Linked DNA regions of Homo sapiens: region 2 is linked to region 1. The links come from fine-mapping of genetic effects on gene expression. A gene starts in region 1. The other region holds a variant in brackets. All regions are shown on one strand. Distances are from middle to middle.

Region 1 (8,350 bases):
TGTCTATTTCTACAGTACATTTTTTAAATTAGAATGTAGAATTACAGAATTTTATAAGACAGCTTACTGAACAATACTTTGTAAGTACATTTAACATAATAAAAAGTAAGACTTTTATCAATATATATATATAAATTATTTTCCTCAAGTAGCTGATAATGTGACATCTGGAAGGCAGGTGCCAGCTGTGGCTCCAATATCAAGTTCTTTTTTTTTCTTACAAAATCTAGCCTATTTGAAATGTTTGACTAGTCACTGAAATTATACCTGTCTAGTCACTGAAATCAGATGAAAACAACCTGAACTCTGCCTTCTAATGTGACAGCCCATGCTTTAAGCATGGAAACTTTTCAAATCTTTCTAATTAATCGTGATGGGAATTTTTCTTTTACTATACAAAGCTGATCATTTTATATTATTTCTACCAATTTTTATTACCAAAGTTGCAAGTCCTTCGTGAACATTTTAAGTAAACTCAAATAAGAAAAATGTTTTTCTCTAGGTTTTGTTTCCTTATAGAGTAGATTCTTTGGGAGAATTTCTAAAATTCTCTTCAGGTATCCGTATCTAATTTCTTGCTCACAAATTTCAAGGAATAGTTTTATCAACAATGAAAGAATAATCACGATACTATTTTAACAGGATAAAGCACAGTCTTGGGTATCAAAAAGTACCAACCAAATCTTAAGTTTCATATGTTTCTGATACAAAAGAAAAGGAGCATGAATTAATAAAAAATCCCTTCCAATATCCTCCTTTTTTTCTTTTTCTTTTCTTTAATTTTTTTGACGTTGTCTTGCTCTGTCGCCCAGGCTGGCATGCAGTGGCGCAATCTTGGCTCACTGCAACCTCCGGGCCTCCTGGGTTCAAGAGATTCTCATGCCTCAGCCTCCCAAGTAGCTGGGATTACAGACGTGCACCACCACGCCCAGCTAATTTTTGTATTATTAGTACACATGGGGTTTCACCATGTTGGCCAGACTGGTCTCAAACTCCTCACCTCAGGTGATCCGCCTGCCTCAGCCTCCCAAAGTGCCGGGATTACAGGTATGAGCCACCGCACGCAGCCTATCCTCATATGATTTCTATAAATTAATATAATTTCGATGAAATCTCTGTTCCTGAAGACGTACTGGAAGATACATGACTTCACTTTAATATTTCCATCTGTTCAATGGAAGAGGTATACAAAATGTAAAATGAGATAATTCAGCAGTGGTCAAAAGTAGCAATGATGCTTCCATATACATAATTATCATGAATAGCTGGGTAAACTCTTAAGTATTCAGTATTACAATTCAGTAATCTGATAAAGCGTTACCTTTCTTGCATATGTTAGATTTCAAAGAAATTCTGGAATATAGGATGAAAATGTGAATCCTTCAAAACTGTCAGAATTACATTTTAGTCGTCATTAAAGTATTTAGGCAACAAAATCAGGTACTCTGGAGAATTTACACATTTCATTAATAGTGACAACCTAATCATTCATGTTGGACTTCTAGTATCCATCAGGGTAAAACCATAAAACAAACAAACAGAAACCTGTTCTTAAACTTCTCCAAGTAATTAAAAAACTGCCACTGGCCCTGTCCCTCCTTTCCCAGACTAAAGGATACAAGATAGAGTCTGTAGAAAACAGCAACAACAAAAGCAATCTAGCCCTAGTCTCCCCTCTACTGGGAGCATTGTTTTTCTGGCCTAAATTAATTTATGGCTTTCTAATCTATGGAATTATTTATGTGACTAATGGGTAACTTAAAAATATTTAGAACACCACTATTTATCATTAGAAATAAGAAGAATAAAGAATGTTAAAACTTTCAAGTAAGCATATTTAACGTCTTCTTCAGATGTCCACAGTTTTTTAAGCAGTTCTATTAATATCAACACAAGAGAAAGTCAGAACAATGTAAACAATAACATTCAACTAGTTATTTTTACATAATTACGTTTGCAGAACTCAAGAGCTTTACTTTCCGTATATGCCCTTTGAAATAAGTCATTGCTTTAAAACTTCCCAGGAACTCTAAAGCTACCATTTGTAACATTAATCTCCAAACAATCCAGTAAAGGATGTTTCCCAAAATATTAACGAATTGACAACTTTTCAAAAGCACTTAATAACTATATTTAATTTTAGATGATAGGAGGGGAAAGGTTCTCAGACCACCTATCTCAGACGTCTGCCTTCAAAACAGTTAGATATAACTATATCCATTTTCTTGAACACTTAGGCCAGTGAGGCAGAATCTCAAAAGGATGTAAGAGTGCTTTCTCCACAGAGTTTGTTTCACCACCCGCCCAGCATCAGCTCCTGGCAAGCAGGGTAATGATAAGGCATAAATCTACAAATAAATTAATGCTTAAACTCTTGTGGAGTTCAAATTTATAAATTCTCATAAATTCATTGTCATTTATTTTCTAATTTTTACAACGCAGAAATGTTATTAGAGTGCTAAGAACGGCAACTATAATCTCACATTGTTGGGCTTTGGCCGTTTCGTATCCTTTTACAACGAACTTGTGTTTTTTTGATAGTTTTCTCTAAAGGGTATTTATGAAAGATTCAGAAATGTAGTATCTCTCTTCAAACCCTTGTTAAATATATATAGTATATATGTATATATTAATATGCAAAATAATTTATTTTTGATGCATGGTCGGACTTTTCATTACTTTTCATTCGAATCAATTGCTTTTAATTAATATATTTAAAAAGTCTCCTTAAATTGTTTGTTCCTTTCAATCTTTGCAAGCAAAACAAGTCTGATTTTGGAGAGGGGAGGACAGCAAAGATTCTATTTTACGATCTACTTAATAAATAGTATACCTGCCTTATATCCAATACCGTCTTTTTTCTGGAACGCATTTCCTTTTTACTCAAACCTTTCTTAGTACAACCCTACTAATAAGTCCATCTTCAAAGGGGTAAATGATCTATACAGAAGTGTCTGGCCGGCGGAGGGATGAGAACAGCAACCTAGGCTCTAGACATATACTTAATAGCCATAAAAATAAAACAATGTCCCTCGAAATGTCCACAGTTTACACTGCAATGGTAGTTTAGATACATAAATATTCGCTGCTTGCTGTGCCTTGTAAGAATCAGGTGTGTGGCTCTAAAACTCAGTTGATTATCTCATCAGGCACCATGGTGTGCAAAGCCCTGCAGGACGTACATTACCCTGGTCCGCGATCACAGGGAGGTCAGAGCCCCTCTCGCATGACGCCGCGACAGTTCCAGCATCACCCACATCAATCCTGAGCTTGCCTTGGTATCTCTGCGGCCCCACCGGCTTCTTACCTGGAGGAGGAGGCGGCTGCAGCGGCGGACAGCGGAAGGTGCTGAAGCCGGCGGGCGCAGCTGCGAGGCGAGCACCACCAACGCGCGGACCCTCCCCGCCCTCCCCGCCTGCTCGCTCAGGGCGCCCGGGGGCGGGGCGGCCGGGCCCGCGGGCTCCGAGGGGCGGGAAGCGTGCTCCGCAAGCCCCAGCGCGGAGCCACGATGGAAGGCGCCGCGAGCCCGATCTCCAGGGTCTGCCCCAGAGGCCCACGTGACAGCTACACAGGTCGCTGATTGGAGCGCCCGAGAGGGGGAGGCGGAAGTGGCTCGTGACCCTTGGAGACTAGGCTGAGGGAGAAGTGGTTACCTGGCAACAGAGAAAGTGTGTTGAAGGCGCAGCTCCTCCGTACTGGAGCGAGGCTTTGGGCAGAGGGTTTGCACTGAGGCTGAAAGTGGAGGAAAACGGTGAACCATCAGCGTTCTCACCACCTAACACATTTTATAGCGAGTCTGCACTTTCTAGGAAAATGAGTCAAATATACAGTAAGTCAGTCATCCTGTCTCTTTCTTGAGGGACCTGGAGGAGGGACTTGAACCAGTGCCTGGAATGTGAGTGCAGAATGCTGTCTCGCCTGCACTTCATTATTGTCTGATTGGGCCCAAGAAGGTCTGTGGGAGAGCTCAATGGATAAGATTATTTGTTTATATTAATCGAGTTGTATGTGGTTAATGTATCTGCCTTCACAAAACTGACATTTTCCCTGTGGGATCTGGTTGAATGGAAGTGCTGGATGTTGTCATTCCTACTGGATTCTTCACATCTCTGAAATATCTTCACTACCTGTGGCCTTTATCCAACACACTAGAGAGAATAAGCCTCGACGTACTCGAAACAAAGTGTATTTAATGACATCTATCGAGAATTAATTATACTCCACTCTAAATAGTTAATAAATGAATGGTCGACCTCAACCAGAGAAAGTCCCTGGGCCTAATTCTTACCTTCCTATGCAGTAGATTTTAATGCTCCTTTTTTCCAAAATATTCTCTGCAGAGACGAGTACCTACCACAGCACTCAATATTCTATATTGTAAATTAAAATTAACTTAAATGTTGGATTTCCATATAAAGAATAAACTTGTTAAAGCTAAAATCAGTTCTTACAACTCCGTCCCCTATATTCTAACAAAGTATCTGATGAATAGCAGGTCTTCAATTAATTCTTGATGGATAGATGGATAAAGAAAGAAAGAAATTAGCACATAATCTACCAGAGAAAGTATAAGGGCAATAACTAAATATAACTCAATGTGTTAAGTACTAAAATAGGGTTACATAAAAGTGCTATGAGATGATTTCAGATGAGGGAGGCAGAACTTTTTCTTCCAAGGTATTCAGAGAAGCTTTCAATATGATTAGTATTTGAGCAGGGACTTATAAATAGGTAGAATTTCACCTGATAAAAAGGGGAAAGTGTATACTATGCAGCAGGAGCAGCATTGCCAAAAGCATAAAGTGGGAAAAAATAAACGATTGATGTAAATAAATTTGATGTTTTTGCCTTCTCCGGAGTTGGGGATGTGAATCCAAAGATAAGAAGGAAGATGGAAATTGGCAAAAGACTGTACTAGAAAAATAAGAAAACTTGATTGGGAAAGATGCAGAATTCTATATATGGGTTAGGCTTTAACCTCTAAACCAAAGGAAGAGATTGAAGTTTATAAAATCAGTGCTTTTTCATCAAGAAAGACACCTTGGAAACATTGGAGATACATGGGATGCAGGAAGATGAAGAACATGGTCTGTTAGGAGAAAAATTCAGTAGTTCATGGGAAAAGATGCTGATGACCTGAGTTAAGACAATGAAAATAAGAATAGCGAAGAGGGAAAATCACAAGAAACATTTCTGTGAAAACAGACTATAGTTTTCATTTATGACTGATATTTGCTAGGTATAGTGCTGAATAGTCAATGGTGTACATGAAGAGAAAATGCTGAAGATACAACGTCTAGCTTAGTCCATCGGTTGGACGGAAAAAATCTTTTATGTTTATTTTGCTCATAATGGCTCCAGCTCTCCAGTTAAGAAACAAAAAACCGGCCGGGCGCGGTGTTTCACTCCCGTAATCCCAGCACTTTGGAAGGCCGAGGTGGGCGGATCACCTGAAGTCAGGAGTTTGACGGCAGCGTGGTGGTGAAACCCCGTTCCTACTAAAATACAAGATGAGCTGGGCGTGGTGGCGGGCACCTGTACTTCCAGGTCCTCGGCAGGCTGAGGCAGGAGAATGGCGTGAACCCAGAAGGCGGAGATTGCGCCACTGCACTTTAGCCTGGGTGACAAGAGTGAGACTCCGTCTCAAAAAAAAAAAAGAAAAAAAAGAAAAAGGAAAAAGAAAGAAACATAAAATTGAATGAGACAACTGAAATTATCTAGTTGTGCACTCATAATTTAAAGATGAAGGTGTTTAAATCTCCAGTCATATTAGCAGCAGATTTTGATAGAGTGATCCCGGTCTCCCAGTTCAGGACTCTTATTCCTTTACCAGAATTTAGTTCATTCCTTTTGAACAGATTTAAATAATCACAACTATAGTTAGATTAGATCTAGAGGAACAATATACCTAATTTATAAAACAAAGATCTCTTTACTCTGATTTTTTATTCTTTTATTCAACCAGTATTTAATGTCATATACTCACCTCACAAAGAAAAAATTGTCAGTCACTTAGGCTGACTGACATTTTCAGGGCAATCATTAGTTCTTAGCACTGAGTACCCGGAGTTCTTCATGATTAAATTTAAAAGCAGAGCGATTAGGGAAGCCAAATGACTCCAGTCAAATTCATCTTCAAGGATAGATAGACATGTTCTATGAGTACAATGGCTTTGAAAAGGAAGTTCAATGCAATTTAATGTGGCAAATGCCCTTTTAATATGTATTCTGGATGAGAAATCAACAAGAAAAAAACTTCTTAAACTAAAATTTTAGAAAAATTTAGCCAAAAAGACTTTAGATTCACCTAATTGAAAAGCCCTCTCACACTTTTTTTTAATGTAAAAATGGTAAGAGAGCAGAAACAAGTATAACAGAAAAAAAAACTTAAACTAATGTGCAGTAAATAGTGAACTAAATACTTAAAAATGTACTTTATGTAAAAACACTTAAAAATTGAAATAGTTTTAAATAGATATATAATCTATTGCCACAATATTGATGATTAAGGTAGATATATTTAAATATATCAAAATATTATTATTTCTATTAAGAAATATATTAGAGGTTATTACTCTTTGGTCTTCTTGAGGTATAAAAATGGCTTAAATTAACCAATAATTTTTGCAGAAAATTGAGATTTTTTCTCTAGATCAATATTGATAGAATTCTTTTATTTTTTTAATAATTGCAGAAAATTTGATATTTTTTCTCTAGATCAATATTGATAGAATTCTTTATTTATTATTATTATTATTATTTTGAGACAGAGTGTCACTCTGTTGCCCAGGCTAGAGTGTAGTGGCATGTTCTTGGCTCATCACAACCTCTGCCTCCAGGGTTCAAGTGATTCTCCTGTCTTAGCCTCCTGAGTAGCTAGGATTACAGGCATGTGCCACCACGTCCAGCTAATTTTTTGTATTTTTAGTAGAGACAGGGTTTCACTATGCTGGCCAGGCTGGTCTCGAAATCCTGACCTCAAGCAATCTGCCCGCCTCAGCCTCTGAAAGTGTTGGGATTACAGGCATGAGCCACTGTGCCCAGAGGATCAATATTGAGAGAATTCTTAAAATTGTTTTTAAATTGTAAAATATTTAAACAGGAAAGTACATACAATAATGCAATAAATATCTATAGTTAATAAATTTTGTTTTTGTCATATTTGCGTTGTCTTTGAAAAAAAAAATTGGCTGGATGTGGTGGCTCACACCTGTAATCCCAGCAATTTGGGAGGCCAAGGTGGGCTGATCACGAGGTCAAGAGATTGAGACCATCCTGGCCAACATGGTGAAACCCCGTCTCTACTAAAAATACAAAAAAATTAGCTGGGCGTGGTGGTGAGCTCCTGTAGTCCCAGCTACTCGGGAAGCTGATGCAGGAGAATCATTTGAACCCGGGAGGTGGAGGTTGCAGGGAGCCGAGATTGTGCCACTGCACTCCACTCTGGGCGACAGAGCAAAACTCTGTCTCAAAAAAAAAAAAAAAAAAAATTATAGGTAGTGAAGTTCTCCTTTTTTCTCTTGTCATTTGATTACTCTCTCATTTTAACCAGATGTAGCTAATCTAACAGATAAATATACTTTCTAAATTTGCTTTATTTTCTGTCATTTATTTTAAAATTTTATAATATTGGTACATATAAGTATATATATTTATATGATATATATCTTATATTAGGAATATAAAATATAGCATCATCATTATTTACCTATTGATGAACATATAAGTGTGTGAACTTTTCTCTATTGCAAAAAGTAGTGAAACTCTTTTCCTGCTCCATATCATCAACATCAGAGTTTTATACTTTTTTCAATCTAATGAATGTATAGTAATATCTCTACATGATTTAAATTTGTGCTTTCTGAAATTGTTGGAATGACACATCTTTTTAAGTTTATAAATTGTTCACTACCTTTTTTTTCTATATTTAACTTTTCCATATTGATTTTTTAGGTTTTAAAATATTCAGGGTGTTTATGTGTTAGATATACCCATTGCAAATATCAGTCCAGATCTTCAGTTGTAAAAATTCTCCATCATTATTTGAATATTTATTCTATTTTTCACTTCTAAAATTTTAATTGAACCTATATGAGAGTTGTTAATTCTACCCATAAATGTATTTATCACTTGTCTTTTCATAGTTTTAATCTCTTTGTCCCTTTGTGCTGAATTCTGTATGACTCTCAGTACCATATTTCAATTTATGAATTTTTTTTCTTCAAATAGTTTCAAAGTGATGATCTTGGCTCCTGCCTAGCCTCATATGAGACATTTAGGTTCCATTTTTCAGCTTAGGCTAATTCTCATCTACTCTTACCTATTTCAGATTTGGGATCCAAAGATTTAT
Region 2 (8,350 bases), 65 kb before region 1:
GTGCAAAAGATATTTTCTATTTTTATTAAACTTACAGGATACTATGCTAGAAATCTATAAAGCAATTAACTCTTAATAGTTACCATATGTCATCTGGCACTACAATAGAAGACCAAGATGAAACTCAAACTAAAAGTCATTTAATGCAAATATTCCTTTTTTATACTAATAACGTACTCCAAAAGCACCTCATAATTTTGGCAGAAACAGAAGAATCAGGCATAACCCCAATTGTTAATGAGCCTTGTTCCAAAATTTTCTAGCAAGTCTATTCTTTGGAACCTGAATACTTGTTCCCATTACACAATGATTTGGATCCCAAACACCCACAAGACTATAAAGTGGTATATGCAGATACATGTAAACATACACCAGTAAAGTAGTGCTTAACTACTGTGGGCCTTTGGGAAAATCCGTTAAGAGTCCAACATAAATAGCCGGAATTACAACTATTCTAAATGCTGGGGAATGGGAATCGAAATTTCTACTTTAAGCAAACGAAACTAACATTTGGGATCTAGAGACGGAGTTGAAGTACAAAGACAGGGTTTTCTAGTCCTCAACAAATAGAATAAGGGTAGAGAAGAAAGTCCTTAAAACTCTGTGTACTTCCATTAATACCAGAAATCACAACCCTTAGGAAACTACAAAAGTACTCGTAAAGTTTCTCCTTTAGGTGGAGGTAAAGGAAAGAAAAATCTCAAGGGTTAGCAAGAAGTAAAAATGTTGTTAGAACCACTGGTTCACCTGGCTGAAGCTGTCCTATGTGGTCATTTCCAATGTTAGGAACATAATCCAGGCAGGGACTTACATGCAGTTTTAAATGTTATTTCACTGCTATGCCTTAAAATTTTATTTTTTGAAATAAGAAAATTCACATAGCAAGAACAAAATTGTAAATGTTTCTTCTGTGTTTTCTTCTTACCAAAAGGAAGGTGAGTAAGACGAGGAAAATTTTGTGGCATTTTTCTTAATTTTAATGGAGCAAATATTCATATGGAAGTACACCTTTTAGAATGTTTATTAATAAGATTTTTAAAATTATGTAAGATTTTAAAAAATATTAATAATATTTTTCTCATCCTATGTAATCTGGAATCTTTGCAGATGCTTCATACATACAGCAGTTCAGAGTTGTTTCTTCTGGTAACACTTCGAGAAATTTCAAATTTGGATCTGTGTTAAGAAAATTGAAACTATAAGGAAAAAATGACTGCCTCCCTCTGACTGGCAGACATTTTAAAGTGAGAAAAGCAACTGAAATAATTTATAATCAAGCGGCTTTTAGTATTTAGTATTCGGCATTTATTAGAATTATAAATTAACATAGATTTTAAGTAAAACATACTTTAATACGAAGTGTCATAGAAAATTTATTGAATTTAGATTGCATGACTTCTCTTCTACTAACACAACTTTTTTTTTTTTTTTTTTTTTTTTTTAGCTTAGTAGAAAGACCCAGATTTTTATTTAAGGCAGAATTTACTTTTTAGATTAGGAGTTAATGGTGGAAGTGATTTTCCTTTCTCTTTTCTTCTTCTTCTTCTTTTTTTTTTTTTTTTAGAGAGAGGAGACCAAGGAGAACCACAGAGGACTTTGCTTGTAATTAAATAGTGAAGTGGTAAAAAAAAAAAAATAAAAATAAAAAATTGTTTTTTTTTTCTTCGAATGGTATATATGGCACTTGGGGCATGTGTGATTCATGTTAGTATATTTTTTCTTTTTTCTTTTGAGTTGCTGCAATGTAATTGTCTCCTGAACTGATTTTAGGAATTGGTGAGCTAAGCACAGTTTTATTCAGAAATGAAGAATTGTCTTGTTGAAGACCCACTGCCAGATTTAGTGACTCAACCCAGTGCTGATGTAAAGCAACTCAGGACATATCAGCAAAATTCTACAGAAGTCATTCTGGTTGGTCTAGTGAAACAAGTGTAGGAAACAGTATATCCTGCTGTTCTTACTAGTTTTTTTTTATAGATTTAAGTGTATTCTTATGTTTTTCTCCCTTCCCTTTCATAAATTTGTTTGAAAACAAATGGTAATTTGAAGTATACAAAAAGTTTACCACACTAGGAAAGAGTTTATATAAAAAGAAAAGTTAAAGTGAAAAGAAAATTAAATCATCTTCAAATGAATATCTACAAAAGGAAAATTCAAAAATAATTAAGCTACAGATTATTTTAAAAATATTTTTGCTATAAATCATTTTTTCATTTGAGGATAAAATTAAACGAGCAGTCTTGAAAAGATACAATATTATTGATTCTTTCTCTCCCTTCAGTTACAAGGACAATTACATCTCTAGATTCTTTTTCTAAGATCAAAGGAAAATAATTAGCATTTAAAGGTTTCTTAAATGTCCAGATTAGTCTAATTCAAACCAGTGGAAAAAGACAGGGACATTTTTAGAAACTCTAAAGTAGGGAAAATTAAAGAGGATTGTTTTTGACAAATATTAATTACAACGCAGTATGTATTATTGCATGTCTTCATTCATTCATTCAACAAAATTTAATAGTCTTGCTATGTGGCAGATACTATATTAGGTAGTGGGGCTGTACCACAGAACACAACCAGACAAAAATGTGGGATCTCAAGGAGGTTGTATTCTATCTTATATAGGGGCTTAATTATCATAAAAACAGAATTCATAGAATCACTTAAGTATCATAGCGATTCAACAATAGAAACAAATCTTAGAAAACATAATCCAACGTTACTCAATTAACAAATGGGAACAATAAGGCTTTGAGCAACTGGCAGAGATCAACTTGTCCTTTCTCTTGAAAGGACATTCTATTCTCATTTTGCTTCCAAAATATACTACAGCTATGTAATTTTCCATTGTACATAAAATATAAGTAGACATTAAGACTTTTGAAGTATAGTGGTTAAAAGTTATTTTAGTAGTTTTATCATCATTCTATGCATTTTCTAAAATGTTTCAACCAGCTACAATAAATTTCTAGTATATTATTACTTACAAAAATAATTTCAAATAATATTCAGACAGGTAAAAGTAAAGATCATGGGTTTACACAAAAAACTATTATGTATAATAAAGGAATGACTACATACATACCAAGTCTCTAAGAAAATCCCACTTCTTAGCTCCCATATCATAAAGTCCAACTCCACCATCCAAGAAACAACACACTGCATGACCAGGAGGAAGAGAAAATGCTTGATTCTGTGTTAAAGTTGGGGGTGGAACTGCTTCGCTTGTTGAGGATGTATAATGATTTTTGGTTGGAGATTGGACTGAAACTAAAAATAGAAGAAAAAAAATCCTATTGGAATGAAACCACAGAGCTTAATTTAGAAAGATTCTTCATTAAAAAAAAAATCCAGAATCTGTACCAGTAAACCATTTAGGCAATGATCATATATTCTCCCACATAAGCAGTTCTTTGGGATTGCCAAAAAATGTAATATAAGCACAAAATTGGATATTATTTTAAAGTACAGATGGAGCAAATAGATGAAAATTAGTGTGTTGAGGAATCACAATCTGTTGTGAATATGTGGTTTCTTATCACCCTATAAATTAAAGCTCAGCATGATTATTTCTGAATTATAAACTTCCTTCAAAATACTGACATAATAGCTTATTCCCTCCTTCCACACACACAAACATATATGCATATAATTTTTTCTTTTAATATAAATAACTCTCTGCCAACAATTTCCAAGCCAGTGAAAATAATTTTTTTGAGATTATGCATAATTCATTTTAATTTATCATAAATTAAGAATCACAACACTATCTGACCTGCACTGGCATCTCAATTTTCTTTCTTCCTAGATGTTTTTTTGTTTGTTTTTTCTTTTTACTGTTTATAGACTTGGATTTCTCCTACTTTCAATTACATAAATATCACTGTGATTATTTTTATATATTATTTATCCCATATTTTGTCTTCTTCCAAAAAGCTCTTCCTTAGAATGTGAATCCAAATATTTTCTTGCAAACATAATCCAAAATAATGACACTAC[A/G]GTAAATTATAAGACCAATCGATTATTAATTGTACACTGGAATATGGAAAATATTTCTCAGTTTTTTTTTTTTTTTTTTTGAGACGGAGTCTCGCTCTGTTGCCCGGGCTGGAGTGCTGTGGCATGATCTCGGCTCACTGCAAGCTCCGCCTCCCAGGTTGACGCCATTCTCTTGCCTCAGCCTCCCCAGTAGCTGGGACTACAGGCTCCTGCCACCACGCCCGGCTAATTTTTTTGTATTTTTAGTAGAGACAGGGTTTCACTGTGTTAGCCAGGATGGTCTCGATCTCCTGACCTTGTGATCTGCCCGCCTTGGCCTCCCGAAGTGCTGGGATTACAGGCATGAGCCACCGCGCCCGGCCATTTCTCAGTATTTTTAATATTAAAATACAATTTTTCTTAGTTCATTTATTATGGATAATATTCATTTCTCAGAATCTGAGAATTACAGAAAGTCCAAACTAGAATGAACTACAAATGACAAAAGAGGCATTTGGTAGCAATGAATTTGGTTCACTAAATTTCGTTGATATTTTGTTTAAAAATTAATATAATCCATCATTGGTTTTTCTAACACTTTAATTGACATTATAGGTGGGTTAGACAACTTTTATGCACCAATCTATTTGTAAATCATGCTTTTCAGAATTCAGCGAGTACGTTTATTTTTTAAAATTTCATTTTCACAATTGTTCTTTTTCCATACTTTCTGTTATATTAAATTGAAGGGAAAACCTAGAAGTCAAAGAAGAGGTAATCTGAAAGGAATTGCTCGAAAATGACAAGACTGGTATGTTATTCTTTGTATTTTCTGACTTTGTCTAATGGACATGGGCTACTTTTATAGTAAGAAAAAAAATGAAAGAAAAGAATCTGGTATTTCAGACATTCCATGACATGGCAGTTCAAAGCTTCTAAACAAATAAAGGAACTAACAATGACAAAAAAATTCCAACATCCCTAAACAGTAAGCCAGCATCCAGCATATTACTTCTCTAGTCCTAATATTTCTAGACCCTCCAGTTTCCAGGTTCTACATTTATTAGGGACTTCACAATTTTGTACAAGGGGTATAGGTTCAAATATAGAGATTTTCTACTACTTGCCATTGCCTACCAATTAGACACCAAAATAACATTACTTTGAATAGCCATTGCTAATTACTTGGTATATTATAAAGATAGAGTAAGAAGGAAACAATCACTCTAAACTTTTCATCACTGAAATCCCTTCCCCATGCTTTTAATGATGTGTTATACAGAATGGGAACACTACCAACCATGCAGAGTAATCATGATAGACTTAACTGGAAGTCTATTATTTTTCCCTTATATTTGAAAAAAATTCTAATTCTAAACCTCCCCCAAATTTCCAGATTTTTCCTTTTTATAAATTAAGTGTATTTTATTTTTTCTTAATTACAGAGGCAACGAATGATACAGAAAATATACACAGAAATAAAGAAGACACAGAAGATCCATAATACTAACTACTAACTTAGTGACAACTGGTATTCAAATATGTAATATGTATTCTAGATCCTATAATTTGAATATTTAGGTTGTTTTAACTTCGTTGTAAACTGTACAGATTTTAAATGAGCCATGTTTAAAACATAAATTCTCCCAGTTCAGATAATCTTATTTAATCCTATCACTCTTAATATTTCTAACTTATTTTCATCAGTATCATTGATTCATCTTTTCCATGTAGATAATCTGAAATTATCTAAATATTCTTACTTAGTAGCATTAAAAAATGTAACTTGACTCTAAATATTTTCAATTTAGTAACAGTAGATCTTGTGTAGCTTTGATGGATCCTTGAGCACATATATTGTCAAAGCCTTTTTTAAAAATTGCTTTTCAGTGGCATATAGTATTTGATATCTCACTATACCATTTTATTTGATAGAAAACACAATATTTTTTAAAAATTAAAATTTTGATAACATTTTTACTTACACTTTTTTCTTGGAGGAGAATTAAGTACATGTAAGCAGTGAAATCCTGTTTTCTTTAATTTAAGATTATCAATAGGTGTTGTTCTTGAAACATTCCAAATGCGTAAAACACCCACTTGAGAATCTAGTCAGATCAGGGAAAAAGCACATTTTAACAAGTTTTGTATGAAACTAAAATGCCTAGACATAAAAGTATAACAAAATTTCAACTGGAAATATTTTAGGACTAATTACTGACATCCTTTTAACAACAATACCATACAGTAATACAACCTAACAACCGAAATACTATTTAACCTTTAAATTTTTGGCATGTTTTACTATTTTTTTGCTCCAAAACCTTTTATAGGTTTAGAAACGGCCTGTTTTGGCAGCTTCCTCCAATAAAGACCATTATAATAACTCAACCACAAAAAAAGACCCTATTGACATATGCTTGTTCTAGGAAAGGCCAGCCACAGAAAACTCTCCATTTCTAACCTTAAATAATCAATCTTTCCACCTTTGAAATGTTTATAAACTGCTCCACTGTCCACTTTTAGCCATTAAGGATTGTCAAATATACCTGAAGACCAATTACAGTCTCCTTTCTTCCAAAATTCCCATCTTAATTACTGCTATGGAGAAAAGTCTGGCAGTTACACAAACGATTAAATATAGAATTACCATATGACTTAGCAATTCCTCTCCTTGAGAAATACTCAACAGAATTATAAGCAAAGGTCCATACCAAAACCTGTACATACATGTTCATAGCAGCATTATCTATATCAGCAAAAAGGTGGAAACAATGCGTCTGTCTATCAACAGAGGAATGGATAAACAAAACCTGCCATATCCATATAATGACATATTATTCAGCCATAAAAAGGAATGAAGTACTGATACATGCTATAACATGGATGAACCTTGAAAACTCTATGTTAAGTGAAAGAAGCCAGAAACAAAAGGCAACAGACTGAATGGTTCCATTTATATGAAATGTCCAGAAGAAGCAAGTCCACAGAGATAGAAAGTAATTAGCAGTTTATGCTTGCACATGTGTGTATCCGGGACTGTAGGGAGGCAGTAATGGAGAGTAACTGCTGATGAGTACAGGGTTTGTTGGGGGAATAATGATATGTTAATTAGATAGTGGTAATAATTGTAGAGCTTTGTGAATATACTAGAAACCACTGAACTGCATGCTTTAAAAATGGTGAATTTTATATGTGAAGCATATTTCAGTAATAGTAATAAAATACAAAACAATTTCCGTGCCTATTGGGCTGGGCATGATGGCTCATGCCTGTATTCCCAGCACTTTGGGAGGCTGAGGCAGGTGGATCACTTGAGGTTAGGAGTTTGAGACCAGCCTGGCCAACATGGTAAAACACCGTCTCTACTAAAAATAGAAAAATTAGCCAGGTATGGTGGCATGCACCACAGTGCAATCTCAGCTACTCGGGAGGCTGAGGCAGGATAATCACTTGAACCCAGAGGTGGAGGTTGCAGTGAGCCAAGATTGCACCACTGCACTCCAGCCTGGGTGACAGAGCGAGACACTGTCTCAAAAAAAAAAAAAAAATTCCATGCCTATTATTAATTATATCCTGAAAAGTTAAAGGCAATTAAGATATATAAATTAAGAATCCATCTACTTTCATGTGCAGTTGCCCCTTGTTATCCATGGGAGATTGGTTCCAGGACCTCCCACGGATAACAAAATCCAGGAATGCTCAAGTCTCTTACATAAAGTGGCATATTATTTGCATATAACCTATGCATATTTTCTCGTATACTTTAAATCATTTCCAGATTATTGTATTAGTCTGTTCTCACACTGCTATAAAGACATACCCAAGACTGGGTAATTTATAAAGAAAAGAGGTTTAATTGACTCACAGTTCTGCATGGCTGAGGAGGCCTCAGGAAACTTACAATCATGGTGGAAGGCAAAGTAGAAGCAGGCACCTTCTTCACAGGGCAGTGGAATGGAGTGAGGGCAAACAGGAGAAATGCCAGACACTTATAAAACCATCAGATCTCGTGAGATCTCACTCATTATCATGAGAACAGCATAGGGTAAACTGTGGCCCCCATGATCCCATTAGCTCCAGCTGGGTCCGGCCTTGACAGTTGGGGATCATGGCAATGACAATTCAAGATGAGATTTTTGGTGGAGACACGGTCAAGCCACATCACTTATTATACCTAATCCAAAGCCTACACATCACATTATTCACATGGGTTCAACATAGTACTTGTCACACTGCAAAGTCAGGTTTTGCTTCTTGAAATTTTGTGGAATTTTTTTCCCCTAACATTTATCATTCATAGTTGGTTCAATCCACTGATGCAGAACCCACAGATACAGGGTGGCGTCACTATTATGTTAAGTATTAAAGAAGT

The links. PIP is the estimated chance that this variant, and not a neighbour inherited with it, causes the effect.
Region 2: its variant is fine-mapped to the expression of WDR17 in nasal epithelium (TOPMed, PIP above 0.99). The same link has a PIP of 0.9 or more in aorta, coronary artery and tibial artery.

What each region holds. Positions count from the first base shown.
Region 1 is chr4:176,061,037-176,069,386 of GRCh38, reverse strand. It overlaps WDR17 (WD repeat domain 17), which reads right to left and starts at 3,546. Exons shown (of 29, transcript NM_181265.4): 1 at 3,308-3,546. RefSeq lists a silencer at 3,291-3,670.
Region 2 is chr4:176,126,471-176,134,820 of GRCh38, reverse strand. WDR17 (WD repeat domain 17) reads right to left here. Exons shown (of 29, transcript NM_181265.4): 6 at 5,961-6,083; 7 at 3,083-3,267. Among named protein-coding and RNA genes, the nearest start is that of WDR17, 65 kb to the right of the region's middle. The variant A/G (reference allele first, on the strand shown) is at 3,997.